3 linked regions of the Homo sapiens genome follow. The protein of the gene in region 2 purifies or fractionates together with the protein of the main gene of each other region. This does not show direct contact. Each region holds a gene or a part of one and is shown on either strand. Other genes may lie near its edges.

The links.
Region 1: the proteins of FOXA1 (region 2) and ZFP91 purify together in Homo sapiens (affinity purification with western blotting; 2 studies listed by BioGRID, with this or other methods). This does not show direct contact.
Region 3: the proteins of FOXA1 (region 2) and DIMT1 purify together in Homo sapiens (affinity purification with mass spectrometry, with the first as the bait; 2 studies listed by BioGRID). This does not show direct contact.

Annotation. Positions count from the first base shown.
Region 1 is NC_000011.10:58,582,043-58,589,088, reverse strand, and holds part of ZFP91 (E3 ubiquitin-protein ligase ZFP91), read right to left. Parts: intron 4,234-7,046; coding exon 4,205-4,233; intron 1-4,204. UniProt on the Homo sapiens protein: Atypical E3 ubiquitin-protein ligase that mediates 'Lys-63'-linked ubiquitination of MAP3K14/NIK, leading to stabilize and activate MAP3K14/NIK. It thereby acts as an activator of the non-canonical NF-kappa-B2/NFKB2 pathway.
Region 2 is NC_000014.9:37,589,032-37,592,275, reverse strand, and holds the end of FOXA1 (hepatocyte nuclear factor 3-alpha), read left to right. Parts: coding exon 1-911; 3' UTR 912-2,724; downstream 2,725-3,244. UniProt on the Homo sapiens protein: Transcription factor that is involved in embryonic development, establishment of tissue-specific gene expression and regulation of gene expression in differentiated tissues.
Region 3 is NC_000005.10:62,393,880-62,400,925, forward strand, and holds part of DIMT1 (dimethyladenosine transferase), read right to left. Parts: intron 5,003-7,046; coding exon 4,941-5,002; intron 4,861-4,940; coding exon 4,767-4,860; intron 4,682-4,766; coding exon 4,632-4,681; exon of another isoform or gene 4,550-4,631; intron 729-4,549; coding exon 605-728; intron 169-604; coding exon 76-168; intron 1-75. UniProt on the Homo sapiens protein: Specifically dimethylates two adjacent adenosines in the loop of a conserved hairpin near the 3'-end of 18S rRNA in the 40S particle.

The sequences.
Region 1 (7,046 bases), on a different chromosome or scaffold from region 2:
AAAACAAACAAAAAAAACCTTAAAAGCCTATCTGAGTGTTAAGACTGGGCTTATACACGCCCTTTCTCACCTACAGATTTTCCTTCCAGAACTCTTTTTCTATTCAAAACCTAAAAGATTTTATTTTGACTGGGAAAACTAGGTCATTAGCAAGGAGATTCAAAATCTTTCAAGAAAGAATTGTGAAGACAATGTTCTCAGTATCTTCTCGATTCTTCCTTTTGTACACAAACTCAAATGGTAAGAATTACAAGTTAGATTTTTCTCACTGGAATGGGAAAAAAAGCATAAAAATGTGTCTTCTGTATTTTTAGAAATAATAAAAATATTCTTTAAATATACTAGAAAGAAAGAAAAACCAACAAAAAAGTATACTATAAAACAGACACATCTGTAAAGGAAGTAAAAACAGTCAATGTTATATTGAGGTTGCAAGTTGACAAGAGGCCAAGATGAATGGGATACAAGAGACTGATTTGAGAGGATACGATAATCAAAGATATTTCAATACATGAAAAATAAAACTGTTGAAATCTATGAAAACTGTTAATAACAAATTAATTCTAATTTTAAAACATGGAGCACAGAGGCATAAGCTATAAATTAGACTGTATCAATATAAGAAAAAAACTGAGGATGTCATCCAGACAGGAGGAAAAATAATCAAAATAAACTAATACTTTAGTAATAATTACAGATAGTATGCTGATTATGATAAACTAGGTAAGGTAAATACTTAACAGTTAAGCTCCAAATAATCTAAGTAAATGCTGAGATCTGTTATGAATTTATCTGATGACTGACTTCTTTTTTCCTGACTACACAAGTTAGAGACTCACAGTAATCACTGTCAAACATCACTATTTCATAAGAGCAACTGAAAAGAGTAAAATGATTTTGAATAAAAGGTTGAGATCCAGAGTTTTATACAATCAAATTTTCAAGCATGCAGTATTTCCAAGTATGTTTTCTGTAAACTCCAGTTTTACGAAATGCTCTTTAAAAAGGGGGTCTTATAAGTCAAATAGGTTAGGTAATCGCTGCAAAATTTTGGTATTTACACTGCACATTACTCAAAAATCAAAGTTTCTGAGAAGTTCTGCAATAAATAACCTATCTAACATTAATAACTGAAGCACTGCCCACATCTACTTGATTCTACAGTATTTATTATCATTCCATTAAACATTTAAAACATACTTTAATAAACATTAAGGTATTCTGGTCTCCATTTTTATGTTTTATCTTGAGAGGCAGTTTTAACTATTATTCCTCACTAAGGACATAACAGATGGGAGAAAAAAAAATTAGGCTTCATAACATGTCTAGTCAGAGGTTAGAAAGTGAAATAAGTTAAAATGAACACTGGGATAACTAAAAATTACGTGTAGGTAGACTATTCTTTTACTTTATAATCAAAGTACAACACTGGTTCAAAACAGAGAAACAATGAAAACATAAAGCCAAGTTAAAAAGGAACTAGATCTCCATCCCTTAAGATTTCTACTAACACTCTTGGAAACTCCACAATCATGAAGATAATCCTCTGCCAGTGGTAAACTAAGCTTTCAAGTTTGAAGTAATTTTTCCTTTTTAACTTTTGTGTGGAATGTTCCTTGTCCAAATTAACTATCTGCATATTCAGGTGTAATCTCAAATGTCACCTCCACCAAAAGGTCTTCCCTTATCATTTCATCTAAACTTAGCTTTCTCAGCTCCAACTTCATCAAACATTATTACACTGTTTTGACTTCTTCATTTATTTGATTACCAGTAGAATCCAGTGCCTAGAATAGCGCCAGACACATAGTGGATGCTCAACAATTACCTGTTGAATGAATTAACACTATTTTAGCATAGTAGCTTTCCATTTGTTTTATACACCAATCACGGTTAAAAAAGGGTAGCAAAAACAGGAACTAATACTCATGTTTATTATTTCAGTTTGAAAAAAATGAATGTAGCACTTTGCAACTTAACTTTTTTTTTAAGTTGCAACTTTGCAACTTAATTTGCAGCTTTGCAAATTAATGGAAAGTTGCCTACTCTGTGTGTGCAATATTGTTTATGTGTATGTCAAAGGTTCTTCTCTTCAACTCAAAGAAGGCATACAATTTCTAGATGGTTTGAGTAAATAAGAGTAAAAACAATCCTGAAGATATCTTTTCAGCATTAATATAACAGAAGGCCAGTCTTACCTCTAAAAAATAAAACCTGTTTAAAGTTTTGAAAAACCCTTAACTTCTGAAATGAACATGAGTTATTTCAGTTAAAATTTAGCAGACTGAACATGAGGACTATTCCAGAGTACCAGAATAACTGAGAAGTTAAATGACCAGAAGAAAAGTAATTAAGGTGAATTCTAAATACGAAACACAACAGGAAAAAGTGACTACCCGAGCCTCCATTTCTTTATTCATTCATCTTGTATGAATGTTACAGTTCTTATATACCTATCTACTGTTCATAGAGTTGAACAGCTACCTTAATGGGTAAACTAACAGAGATGAAGATTGGCATTTGAGAATATCTAGATCCAGGGCCTTTAAACAGTAAAGTGGGATTGATCTTCGGATCAAATTATCCAGAATGTAGTTTTAATCTCTCCACAGCTGCACAACCACAAAACATGCCAATAAGTCAACTTCTAGTTTAAAACATTTACACACGAGGCAGGCGGATCACTTGAGGCCAGGAGCTCGAATCCAGCCTGGCTAAACCCTGTCTTTACTCAACAAACAAAAAAAAGACGTCTACCCAAAGGTCATCTACTTTTCTCTCCAAAAGGGGCTCCAAATTTCCACCTTTCTTCAAGTTCGCCTCAAGGCAACCCATAGTGATTTCTTTGGACACGTAAGGTAATTTCAGCTCTGACAAAAGCAGGTTGCTTTTTGTTTTAATCAGAATGCTCTAGACTTGTTACCTGTCTCTATATTTTCTCCACATCATAAAATCTCCAAATTGATCTCTGAATAAGAAATGTGAGACCTTCCATTTTTGGCAGACATAACCTATTTTCTAAGTAACAACAACAGGAACAAAAAACTTGCTAGACAAAATAATCATGCCAAGGTTTCTAAATAAAAAAAAAAAAATGCCAGGTATGAAAAACCTCTGCCTGCTATACTATGAAATATTAGACTCACATTCCAAAATTCAGAGAAATAAGAAACCTTAGCATTGAAACCTAATTATTTACAAAGCAGCCACCACCAATGCAAGTTATTGGTTCTTAAATTACACTATCATTCTTCCATATGGCACAAAATCCAGGCTTTAAACTTGCCTTATACGTTCTCGAAGAATTATTTATCAAGAACAGAAAAACCTTAAGATTCTCATGTACATGTAATACATACACTGATATATAAAATGCATATACATATATTCTTTTATAGAAATAGTAGCAGGCTATAAGCAGACCTTAAAAGCTATGGATACTAGGTGGATTCTAGGAGTTTGGAAACTGGCTGTGTCAAGCCTGGGTCAAGGTCACACGTAATAAAAGAAATGTGCCTAAAAGTATATTTGTTCAGTTTTAAGGAGGATGCTGTGTGTTTGAATTTAACATCAAGGAACACAGCCAAAAACTAGAAAAAAACAAAAATGAAACGAATAAGCAACTGGTCCAACACGTTAGGGCAATTTTAATAACCTAATCTGCAAAGCCAGAATAAAGTATTTTAAAAGTTATTGAAAAAGTGAACATTAGCTTCCTGTCATAATCCAGGAAAACAGAAAACTATAATACATACATCTGGTGTGCTAACACTCAAACTTAAAGGAAAATGACCTAATATTGACCTAATTTAATTATTCACCAGGCTGAATTCTTAGAACACTCAGCATTCTTCACCCTGTAATTTTAATCTGTATTTCTACTAGCATAAAAATTTTTGCCTTCACTTTACTCTGTATACTGTGTATCATTCCAGTCTGTTACCTCATTTAAAAATAAAAGGCTTAAAAAAGTTACTATAAATTACCATCAAACAATCTGATTTGCCTTTATTAGGTTTCTAAATAATGCCAATATACTCTATTATCCAAACGTGCTGTCGTCTAAATATTTTCTAACTCCAGTAATTTTTTACCAAATAAAAATTCCTTTTAAATGGGAACCAATTTGAATGATGAGGCTTTCTAACAGATTAAAAGATAATCAGTGTAATGTACGCTAGAGGTAAGGATGACCAAGTCTTACCTTTATCAGTTGTTACTTTTTCTATGCATCTGAAAGAAATAAGAATCAAACATTAATGAACAATCTAGCACATTTTCTGAAAATATAAATATCTCTTTCAGGTTCACCTCCAGAGTGATAAAGAAAGCATCTAGACTAGTGTTGTCCTACAGAATTTTCAGCAGTGATGGAAACATATCTGCACTGTCCAATATGGCAGTCACATGTGGCTACTGAGCACTTGAAACAGTTCATGTAATTGTGAAACTGAATTTTTAATTTTGATTAATGTAAATTTAAATAGCCACATGTGGCTACATAACTGACAGCACAGAGCTAGAATATCATTCAAAACACCTATTTTTAACTAAGATATTGATACAAAGAAAATATTACTAATTTTGTTACATTAAGTGATTATATAAGAAAATGTTCTTATTTTATATAAATGTACTAACTAGAGATGAAATGATGTTTGGGATGTGCTCCAAAATACTTCTGCCAAAACAGGGAGGATGGACATAGCAAGCATGGCAAAATCTCAGCTAGGTGATCAATACTGGGGTTTCATTATACTATTTTCCCTATTTTGTGTATATTTAACAATTTTCATAATAAAAACTCAATGAAGTGTTAAAAAGACCCTAAAATTGTTTGTTAAGACCAAATCAAAATCTACTTGTAAAAAGACAATAGGTGGACCTCACAAGTAAATGTAACTTGCCCTTTACAAATTAAAAAGCAACAGTAAAGAGCTTAAAAATTGTTATAGCCTGAAGATTTTTTTAAAAACCCCCAAAACAACAAAAATCAGACATATCCCCAGGTTTTTCATTCAGAAAAATTTCTCTCATACGTAACTGGTGAGGACAGTATAATGAACTTCCTATACTTACTACTAAAATTCAAAAGTCAACAGGCCCTGAACATTTATCATATAGATACCACAGAGTATCTCTGAACAGTACAAAGTTTTTTTGTTGTTGCTCCTCCCAAAAGTAAACCTAATATAGTAAAGACTCTATTATGTTACAATATGTTATAAATAAATACCCAGACAAATACAGAAGCCACAGTGTAATACAAAAATCTATTCTACTTAGAAACAATAGTTATCACTGTTTGTTCCATACTTTTTTAAAAAAGACTGGTATTATAATTTTATTTTAAATCACATTACCAATGTCCCAATTAACACACCATAACTGCTAATCATCCCATCTTTAAATAAAAACTGCAGAAATAATTGCTAAATTTTTGAAAAATTATATAACAAACTTTTCCAAAAACCTTGAAAGTTGGTTCAATGTTTCTATCATCATACTGATTAAGATCCTGATCACAGGATTTCAGTCTTGTACAACTGAAGGCTTCTCCAAAGAACTGTAAGTTTTTTCAATTCAGAATATTACCACCTCTTCATCCTCACTATCCATGACCTTCAAAAGGGAAACAGCAAGAAAGGTCACCTAAAGGTTTATTACTGTTTTAATTTTAGCAAGAAAATATACCAAAAATGGAATTTCACATACTAGAAAATAAAACTACTTTCCTTAATCTGAACCTGAAGGAAGACATCTAAAAATACTCAGTATTAGCTAATATGGTTACTCAACAGCGAAGTTAGAATTTTTAAAAAGTATTTGTCCCTAAAGTTTTAAGTTTTGAAATGCACAGGATAAATGAAGGGCTATTACATGTAAGAATGAAAAAAAGCCTTATACATTTTAACCTAGTCTTAATTTGACAATTTCATTCCCTACTAGCAGAACGCATGGATGAATCAGAAAAAAATCATAGGCAAAAACTAGTATACTAATGCTACTAGATTTTACTTCAAAAATTAAAGACAGTATATAAACGTGCACTTGAAATAACTGTAATTTACTGGCTAACATACAGCAAATGATCAGTCTTACTCTTAGTATGGATACATAAACTTTCTTCAAATTTGGTTTATTTTTCCTACTAGCTTTCTATGCTTCAATTTATCATGATTCTAGCATTTAACTCTGTGCTTCTCTTGAGCACAATGAAAAATTTTTATTTCCCCTTCATCCACAAATATTTCCTCTTCCCAATAACCCCTAAATAGTTCATTGTGAAAAGAAGTTGTTATAAACATCAGATTATAAAAACTGTAAGCTAAATATGTCATCTCGCAAATTCATAAAATATCAATTATAAATGAAGCAATTATAAATGAAGAGGTTAAGTGACTTGCTCAAGGCCACTTACTGCACAGTACAAAGCTGGAACATAAAACTTTCTGACTAAAGTCCAATGCTTTATCCACTCTATTATTTTGCCTTCCAATGGGAACAGAGGTTTCAACCAATCCAAATCTATCTATTTCTTGACCTTTTAAACTATGGTATACTTTACTATCACTTTAATTAAGAAAATCAAATGTAGGTTAAACAGCTGATTACTAAGATTGTATACAGGGAAATGCTGGGATATGGAAAAAGGACTAGCGCGAACAAGTAAGTAATACAGAATAAACCTTCCTTTTTAAAATTTTCAAAATGTCATTTGGAAAACAGAAATGACTCAAAGTCAAAGATACCAGACCAGGGTTTGGACTCAAAACCTCTTGAAATATCTTAAAGGATTAAATTATGTAGAAAAAATTAAGTCTTAAAATGTATTTTATGACTGAAAATCTGTATACCATACACACATTTGACATATCTCCACTAATTAATGCATCTTTGCCTTACACCCCAAGGTCCTTGAAGATGAGGGCCATGTCTCATTTTTCTTTCTACCACCTAGTTCAGCATAGTACCAGGCCCAGATACTGATGAAACAAGTTTGCCAAGCTAAAATGCTTTAGCATTCCTCTGATTTCCAGATTATG
Region 2 (3,244 bases):
AGCCGCCCTACTCGTACATCTCGCTCATCACCATGGCCATCCAGCAGGCGCCCAGCAAGATGCTCACGCTGAGCGAGATCTACCAGTGGATCATGGACCTCTTCCCCTATTACCGGCAGAACCAGCAGCGCTGGCAGAACTCCATCCGCCACTCGCTGTCCTTCAATGACTGCTTCGTCAAGGTGGCACGCTCCCCGGACAAGCCGGGCAAGGGCTCCTACTGGACGCTGCACCCGGACTCCGGCAACATGTTCGAGAACGGCTGCTACTTGCGCCGCCAGAAGCGCTTCAAGTGCGAGAAGCAGCCGGGGGCCGGCGGCGGGGGCGGGAGCGGAAGCGGGGGCAGCGGCGCCAAGGGCGGCCCTGAGAGCCGCAAGGACCCCTCTGGCGCCTCTAACCCCAGCGCCGACTCGCCCCTCCATCGGGGTGTGCACGGGAAGACCGGCCAGCTAGAGGGCGCGCCGGCCCCCGGGCCCGCCGCCAGCCCCCAGACTCTGGACCACAGTGGGGCGACGGCGACAGGGGGCGCCTCGGAGTTGAAGACTCCAGCCTCCTCAACTGCGCCCCCCATAAGCTCCGGGCCCGGGGCGCTGGCCTCTGTGCCCGCCTCTCACCCGGCACACGGCTTGGCACCCCACGAGTCCCAGCTGCACCTGAAAGGGGACCCCCACTACTCCTTCAACCACCCGTTCTCCATCAACAACCTCATGTCCTCCTCGGAGCAGCAGCATAAGCTGGACTTCAAGGCATACGAACAGGCACTGCAATACTCGCCTTACGGCTCTACGTTGCCCGCCAGCCTGCCTCTAGGCAGCGCCTCGGTGACCACCAGGAGCCCCATCGAGCCCTCAGCCCTGGAGCCGGCGTACTACCAAGGTGTGTATTCCAGACCCGTCCTAAACACTTCCTAGCTCCCGGGACTGGGGGGTTTGTCTGGCATAGCCATGCTGGTAGCAAGAGAGAAAAAATCAACAGCAAACAAAACCACACAAACCAAACCGTCAACAGCATAATAAAATCCCAACAACTATTTTTATTTCATTTTTCATGCACAACCTTTCCCCCAGTGCAAAAGACTGTTACTTTATTATTGTATTCAAAATTCATTGTGTATATTACTACAAAGACAACCCCAAACCAATTTTTTTCCTGCGAAGTTTAATGATCCACAAGTGTATATATGAAATTCTCCTCCTTCCTTGCCCCCCTCTCTTTCTTCCCTCTTTCCCCTCCAGACATTCTAGTTTGTGGAGGGTTATTTAAAAAAACAAAAAAGGAAGATGGTCAAGTTTGTAAAATATTTGTTTGTGCTTTTTCCCCCTCCTTACCTGACCCCCTACGAGTTTACAGGTCTGTGGCAATACTCTTAACCATAAGAATTGAAATGGTGAAGAAACAAGTATACACTAGAGGCTCTTAAAAGTATTGAAAGACAATACTGCTGTTATATAGCAAGACATAAACAGATTATAAACATCAGAGCCATTTGCTTCTCAGTTTACATTTCTGATACATGCAGATAGCAGATGTCTTTAAATGAAATACATGTATATTGTGTATGGACTTAATTATGCACATGCTCAGATGTGTAGACATCCTCCGTATATTTACATAACATATAGAGGTAATAGATAGGTGATATACATGATACATTCTCAAGAGTTGCTTGACCGAAAGTTACAAGGACCCCAACCCCTTTGTCCTCTCTACCCACAGATGGCCCTGGGAATCAATTCCTCAGGAATTGCCCTCAAGAACTCTGCTTCTTGCTTTGCAGAGTGCCATGGTCATGTCATTCTGAGGTCACATAACACATAAAATTAGTTTCTATGAGTGTATACCATTTAAAGAATTTTTTTTTCAGTAAAAGGGAATATTACAATGTTGGAGGAGAGATAAGTTATAGGGAGCTGGATTTCAAAACGTGGTCCAAGATTCAAAAATCCTATTGATAGTGGCCATTTTAATCATTGCCATCGTGTGCTTGTTTCATCCAGTGTTATGCACTTTCCACAGTTGGACATGGTGTTAGTATAGCCAGACGGGTTTCATTATTATTTCTCTTTGCTTTCTCAATGTTAATTTATTGCATGGTTTATTCTTTTTCTTTACAGCTGAAATTGCTTTAAATGATGGTTAAAATTACAAATTAAATTGTTAATTTTTATCAATGTGATTGTAATTAAAAATATTTTGATTTAAATAACAAAAATAATACCAGATTTTAAGCCGTGGAAAATGTTCTTGATCATTTGCAGTTAAGGACTTTAAATAAATCAAATGTTAACAAAAGAGCATTTCTGTTATTTTTTTTCACTTAACTAAATCCGAAGTGAATATTTCTGAATACGATATTTTTCAAATTCTAGAACTGAATATAAATGACAAAAATGAAAATAAAATTGTTTTGTCTGTTGTTATAATGAATGTGTAGCTAGTAAAAAGGAGTGAAAGAAATTCAAGTAAAGTGTATAAGTTGATTTAATATTCCAAGAGTTGAGATTTTTAAGATTCTTTATTCCCAGTGATGTTTACTTCATTTTTTTTTTTTTTTTTGACACCGGCTTAAGCCTTCTGTGTTTCCTTTGAGCCTTTTCACTACAAAATCAAATATTAATTTAACTACCTTTCCTCCTTCCCCAATGTATCACTTTTCTTTATCTGAGAATTCTTCCAATGAAAATAAAATATCAGCTGTGGCTGATAGAATTAAGTTGTGTCCAACGGAGACTCATGAACTCTCTTCTCATTAAAAGAGAAACGAAACTTAGCCATCAGGGTAGCTCTGGAGGAGGTGGGAGGAGGGGAGTTAATTCACTCTCGCAGGGGAAGCGTTGTACCGACAGGACATTTTAGGGTAGCCGCTATTTTGCATTTTGTGAAGATTGTTTTAAATTTTGATTCAAAAATGTCGTTCCTAAGAACTTAAAGTTGATAATTTGTTTCCTTCTAAGGAGCTTTTAAATGCAACTTCACACTCCATAGTTGCTTGGGATCACAAAATCATTAATCTCCTTTGATAGCAGGCTCACTTTCCAGTCCACCTATTTCTTTGTAAGTCTTGTTCGGATTGACATCAACAATAACAACACCAGCTCAAGCAGAGGCCTGCCTGCCTGAGCCCTTGTGTATGAACTCCATCCTCACCAGGGCTTGAACTTGGACAGCCTTTACTTTGATCGCCCCACTCCACACCGCGGACAAGATAAAAAGAGCCGTGTGAGTCGCTTAATTATCGCGTAAT
Region 3 (7,046 bases), on a different chromosome or scaffold from region 2:
CTGCTGTTATAGGCACACATCTTCCCGCCTGGACTTTTTTTTCCTTTATTGAATGAGCTAGTATTTTAACCTCACCTGAAAATTGATGGGTGGTGGTGGATTCTTAGGTTCTATCCTTACAACACTGGATTCCACCTTGGGCGGTGGTCTGAAGTTATTCTTTCCCACCTGTTAATGAAAAAGTATTTAAGTAGTACTCACAAAGGCAACTTTTATTTAGTAACCAGATATGCTATCCTCACAGAAGGCACAACTGGATGCTCAAGGATGAATTAAGCTAGATTATTTCAATAATAAAAATCACTGGCTGGGTGCTTTGGCTCACACCTGTAATCCCAACACTTTGGGAGGCCAAGGCAGATGGATCATTGAGCCCAGGAGTTCAAGACCAACCTGGGCAACATAGCAAAACTCTGTGTCTACAAAAAATACCAAAAAATTAGTCAGGCGTGGTGACGCACACCTCTAGTCCCAGCTACTCGGGACTCGAGAAGATTGCTTGAGTATGGGAGGCAGAGATCGCAGTGAGCCACTGCACTGCAGCCTGGGTGACAGAGTGAGATTCTATCTCAGAAAAAAGAGAAAGAAAACAAAATTCACTTACTTTCATTAGATGGTCCACACGTGCCAACAGCTGTGTATTAATTGAGAGTCTGCAGTATAACTTATCTCCAGGTTTTGCAACCAGTCGGAGGGCAAATTCTCTTTGAAACATAAGTATAGCACACCTGAAAAGAAAGCAGAAAGGAATAAGGAAAATGGTCATTGTCAACTATAAATGAATTTTAACTGCAATGAATTTTCTTGGGAGAGAAATAGCAAAGCATTGGCAGCTGATTATAAGGTAGGAGAACACATTCAGCCTTTTTTTTATTGCCACAGAATGAGAGAGCTGGCTTTGTTTTTATAATTGCTGTACTCCTCATGGCAAGATAGCTTGCAAATATAAGCCTTTAATGACTGGATGAGATGTTTCAAATCAGCACTAGTCCATCACCTCTTCTATGAAAACAAAGTGAAATAAAATTGTTTCAGTAGCAGTAATATATTTATGGGGTAGCAAACACCTTTAAGGAAGAGGTGAGACTGAAGAGGCAGATTGTGACGTTCAATGTTTCCTTGATTTGACGGGTTAAAAGATGTAGACTTTTTTTTTTTTTTTGAGACGGAGTTTCGCTCTTGTCGCCCAGGCTGGAGTGCAATGGCGCAATCTCGGCTCACTACAACTTCCGTCTCCCAGGTTCAAGTGATCCTCGTTCCTCAGCCTCCCGAGTAGCTGGGATTACAGGCGCACACTACCACCCCTGGCCAATTTTTCTATTTTTAGTAGAGACAGTGTTTCACCATGTTGGCCAGGCTGGTCTGGAACTCCTGACCTCAGGTGATCCGCCCACCTCAGCCTCCCAAAGTGCTGGGATTACAGGCATGAGTCACCACACCCAGCCAAAAGATGTAGACTTTTTATTCAGCAGGCAATGGGGAAGACTTTGTAGGGGTTAACGAACAGAAGAGTATCTTCAAAGCTACACTTTGACATTCAAACTTTTGACAATGAGTCACACTAAAAATACATTTGGCATTGCAAGCCAAGCCACAAATGTCTGTATGTATATGTGTTTATATTGTATTTCAAAACAAAAGTTTCATGAAACCATAATCACCTGGACTACATGCAATGCCCTGTGATATATTCTATTCCATGTGATTACAAAAAAAAAGAATGGTCATGACTCATTAATTTTATAACCACTAGTTTTTGACTTGCAGTTTGAAAGCCACTAGTATATAATATAGAAAGTGACTTCAAAGTTCATGGAAATATTGAATTAAAAGATAAAATAAGGCTGGTGTGGCGGCACACACCTATAATCCACAGCACTTTAGGAGGCCAAGGCGGACAGATCGCTTGAGCTCAGGAGTTCAAGACCAGCCTGGGCTGAACATGGTGAGACCCCTTCTCTAAAAAAAACACAAAAATTAGCTAGGCATGCTGGTACACCCCCATAGTCCCAGCTACTCAAGAGGCTGAGGTAGGAGAATCATCTGAGCCCAGCCCAGGGAGGCTGAGGTTGCAGTGACCTGAGATGTCACCACTGTACTCCAGCCTGTCTCAGAAAAAGAAAAAAAAGAAAAAACATAAACTTTATTATTCAACATAAGCTCCATCAAGTTCAAGACACTTTTGTAAGTGATGATACCAGCATTTTAGTCTATATCAAAAAAACTGAGGCTCTGGGGAATTTAGCCATGTCACTGCAGGTTTTTTTTTTTTACATTATTAACTGAAGAAAAAAGAGTGCCCTTTCAAGATTTTTTAAGACTGGGAAACGAAAATAAATCAGAAGGGCTGGGCACCATGGTTCATGCCTGTAATAATCCCAGCATTTGGGGAGGCTGAGGTGGGCAGATCACTTGAGCTCAGGAGGGGGAGACAGCCTGGGCAACATGGCAAGACCCATCTCTAAAAAAAATACAACAATTAGCTGGGTGTGGTGGCACATGCCCGTAATCGCAGCTACTTGGGAGGCTGAGGTGGGAGGAATGCTTGAGCCCAGGAAGTGGAGGCTGCAGTGAGTGCAGATCATACCACTGCTCTCCAGCCCGGGCACCAGAGCAAGACTGTCTCATAAAATAAAAAGAAGTCAGAAGGGGCCCAATCAGGACTGTAAGGTGGATACCTAACCATTTCCCATTGAAACTCTCGAAAAATTGCCCTCGTCTGATGAGAGGAAGGAGTAGAAGTATTATGGTGGAGGAATCTCTGGGGAAGCTTTCCCAGGAGTTACTCTGCTACATCTTAGCTAACTTTCTCAAAACACTCTTGTAATAAGCAGATGTTTTCATTCTTTGGTCCTAAAGAAAGTCAGCAAGCAAAATGCCCTGAGCATTCAAAAAAAAACTGTTGCTATGACCTTTGCTCTTGACTGGTCTGCTTTTGCTTTGACTGGAGCCACTCCGTTTCTTGGTAGGCATCACTTTCACTCTGCTTTGTCTTTAGGATCACACTGGTAAAGCCATATTTCATCTCCATTACAATTCTTTGTAATTCTTTGAAGAAATGTTTCAGGATCTTGTTTTCTTTTTTGACAATCTCGCTCTGTTGCCCAGGCTGGAGTGTGGAGTGCAGTGGCACAATCTTGGCTCACTACAACCTCCGCCTCCTGAGTTCAAGCGATTCCCCTGCCTCAGCCTCCCGAGTAGCTGGGATTATAGGTGCCCACCACAATGCCCAGCTAATTTTTTTATTTTTAGTAGAGATGGGGTTTCACCATGTTAGCCAGGCTGGTCTCCTGACCTCAAGTGATCTGCCCGCCTCGGCCTCCCAGAGTGCTAGGATTATAGGTGTGAGCCACTCCACCCAGCCATGTTTCAGGATCTTGATCCCAGTTATGTAAAATTTCCACTGGAAGCTCTGCTTTTATCTGCAGCTGATTTGAGTACAATGTTTTTTGTTTTGTTTTTTCATAAAATCTTTCAGAAAAGAGGGTATGACAGTTTTGGCATCTATCAAGTACAAAGTTTGTTTAACTTTGATTTTGCAGTCAGAATTGTGTAAGCTAAACCAACTGTGATGTCTATGGTGTTGGCTATTGTTTGTGCTGTTGAATGTTGTTCCTCGTCACTTAGGGAACAAACAAGATGAATGTTTTCCCACAAATTGATATGGCCAGTGTGCCACTGTAGGCTTCATCTTCAACATTGTCTCAGCCCTTCTTAAAATGAGTTATCCATTAGTAAACTGCTGATTTCTTTGGGATATTGTCCCCATAAACTTTTTTTTTTTTTTGAGACGGAGTCTCGCTCAGTCGCCAAGGCTGGAGTGCAGTGGCGCGATCTCGGCTCACTGCAAGCTCCGCCTCCCGGGTTCACGCCATTCTCCTGCCTCAGCCTCCCGAGTGGCTGGGACTACAGGCGCCCGCCACTACGCCCGGCTAGTTTTTTGTATTTTTAGTAGATGTGGGGTTTCACCATGTTAGCCAGGATGGTCTCGATCTCCTGACCTCATGATCCGCCTGCCTTGGCCTCCCAAAGTGCTGGGATTACAGGTGTGACTCCATAAACTTTTTGTAAAGCATCAATGATTTCACCATTCTTCCAACCAGGTTTCACCATAAATTGGATGTTTGTTCTTACTTGAATTTTAGCAGAGTTCATGTTGCTCTGATAGGGGCTCTTTTCAAACTGATGTCTTATCCTTCTCAGTGCCTCACACTAGATCCTGCTCAGTTAGTACAGAGTTTATTTTGGTGCAAAAAAATTTTGAAATCCATGCAAGTTTTTTTCATAATACACATTTTCCATGAACTTTTTGAAGACCTCTTATACTAGAGACCAGTTAGGAAACCACTGCAATTGTCTAGACATAAGGTAATAAAAATTCTAACCTAGACTTAACGGCAGGAAGATTCAAAAATAGGGAAAGGCTGTCTGGTCTCAGAAGCAGGACTTCCAGCACACTACCCCCAAATAACCTCTCAATTAAAGAGAGAAAGACCTCCATACAAATCAACATTTTCTACAAAAATTCTTCAGTAGTTTTTCAACTGACCTGACTCATTTTTGGCTATGTTCACCACCTGAACTGTAAGTCTTTCAAAATTTGGCAGTAACTCTAGTCTTTTGTCACAAACCTGAAAAAAGGTCGATGTAGCAACAGCTTGAAGACAAAAGGTGAAGAGATCTGTAAGAGAATTAACTAGTTATTTCCGGGAAAGACACATCAGAGGAACAGTTAGTATGATGTTCCTGAAAATGTGAGGACATACCTGATAAGGCAAATTTGCCACACAAGTATCAAAGAATGGCAAATCTGTTTTCAGCACATCACCCACCAGTACTTGAAGTTTGCTGGCCACAGGCCTGATGAGAAAAGAAGAAATGTAAAAAGAATGTTGTTTCATGAGATTGAAATGCACTTTAATTCTATTATGTATACTCACGTGCCCTGAACTCTTTTGTGAAGTTCAGCTACTAGCCTTGGGTCAAGTTCACAAGCAACAACCTAATTTAAAAAAAATAAAAATTATTTAGGTTAATTATGGAATATAAATCTTTTATTGTTATCCCAACAGGAACTCTTACATGATTTATGTGACAAACTTCTTCTCCCATTTCTACCATCAATATTCCTTTAATTATACTCGCATACTTCAAACAACAAACAAAAATGGGCCGGGTGCAGTGGCTCACGCCTGTAATCCCAGCACTTTGGAAGGCTGGGGTGGGCGAATCATGAGGTCAGGAGTTAAAGGCCAGCCTGGCCAACATGGTGAAACCCCATCTCTACTAAAAATACAAAATATTAGGCCAGGTGCAGTGGCTCACGCCTGTAATCCCAACACTTTGGGAGGCTGAGACAGGCAGATCACCTGAGGTCAGGAGTTCGAAACCAGCCTGGCCAACATGGCGAAACCCCGTCTCTACTAAAAATACAAATTTAGCTGGGTACAGTGATGGGCATCTGTAATCCCAGCTACTCGGGAGGCTGAGGCAGGAGAATTGCTTGAAACTGGGAGGCAGAGGTTGCAGTGAGTCGAGATCGCACCATTGCACTCCAGCTTGGGCAAGAGACAGAGACTCTTGTCTCAAAACAAAAACAAAAACAACACAAAATATTAGCTGGGCCTAGTGGTGGGCGCCTGTAATCCCAGCTACTCAGGAGGCTGAGGCAGGAGAATTGCTTGAACCCTGGAGGCGGAGGTTGCCATGAGCCAAGACTGTGCCACTGCATTCCAGCCTGGGTGACAAAGTGAGACTCCATCTCAAAAAAAAAAAAAAGCCGGGTGTGAGGCTGAGGTGGGCGGATCATGAGTTCAGGAGACTGAGACCAGCCTGGCCAACATGGTAAAACTCTGTCTCTACTAACAAATTCAAAAATTATCTGGGCGTGGCGGCACGTGCCTGTAATCCCAGCTACTCAGGAGGCTGAAGCAGGAGAATTGTTTGAACCAGGGAGTCAGAGGTTGCAGTGAGCCGAGATCGCGCCACAGCACTCCAGCCTGGCAACAGAGCGAGACTCCATCTCAAAAACAAACAAACAAACAAACAAACACCACCACCCAGAAAAGTAGACAACCAGATTATGTGAGAGTTCTACTCATATAATCAATAGAATCATGTTTCATCTGTCTCCATGCTTTGTAATTCAACAGATGATGAAAAAAATACACTACATGTCTCTGCAGTCAGTGTTGTTAGAGAAGAGCGTACAATGCAATTGCTCTTACTGTTAGTATGTCACATCTACTGAGATACACAATACATGGCATAGATAACTTCTCAAGTAAATGAAAATGGATGTCAAATAAGGCCGAAATTGAAATTTTATTGCAATTTCAGCTGAGGTTTCACTGACTTTATTTTTATTAAAAAATAATTTTTTTTAAGAGATGGGGTCTCACTCTGTTGCCCAGGCTGGAGTGAAGTGGCGCTATCATAGCTCACTGCTGCCTCGAAGTCTTGGGCTCATGGGATCCTCCCACCTCACCTTCCTGTGCAGCTGGGACCACAGGTGTGTACCAGCACACCAGGCTAATTTCCTTTCTTTATTTTTAATAGAGACGGGTCTCTCTATGTTGCCCGGGCTGGTCTCAAAACTCCTGGGCTCAAACAATCCTCCCACCTTGGCCTCCCAAAGTGCTGGGATTATAGGCGGGAGGCACCATGCCCAGCCTTTTTATTTTTTATAGAGATTGGGTCTCGCTTTGTTGCCCAGGCTGGTCTCAAGCTCATAGCTTTAAGCAATCTTCCTGCCTCAGCCTCCCAAAGTGCTGGGATTACAGATGTGGGCCACAGCTCCTGGCCCTACTTCTATATAGACCCTGTTTACATGGTAAACAATGTGTTTCTTACTCTGTTTGGCTCCCAGATCTATCTTTAGTTTTATTTTTATTTTTTGAGACAGGGTCTCACTGTGTCACCCAGGCTGTAGTGAAGTGGCAGGATCATGGCTCACTGGAGCCTCAACTTCCCAGGCTCAGGTAAACCTCCCACCTCAGCCTCCCTGCTAGCCAGGGCTACAGTCAGGCACCACCATGCCCAGCCAA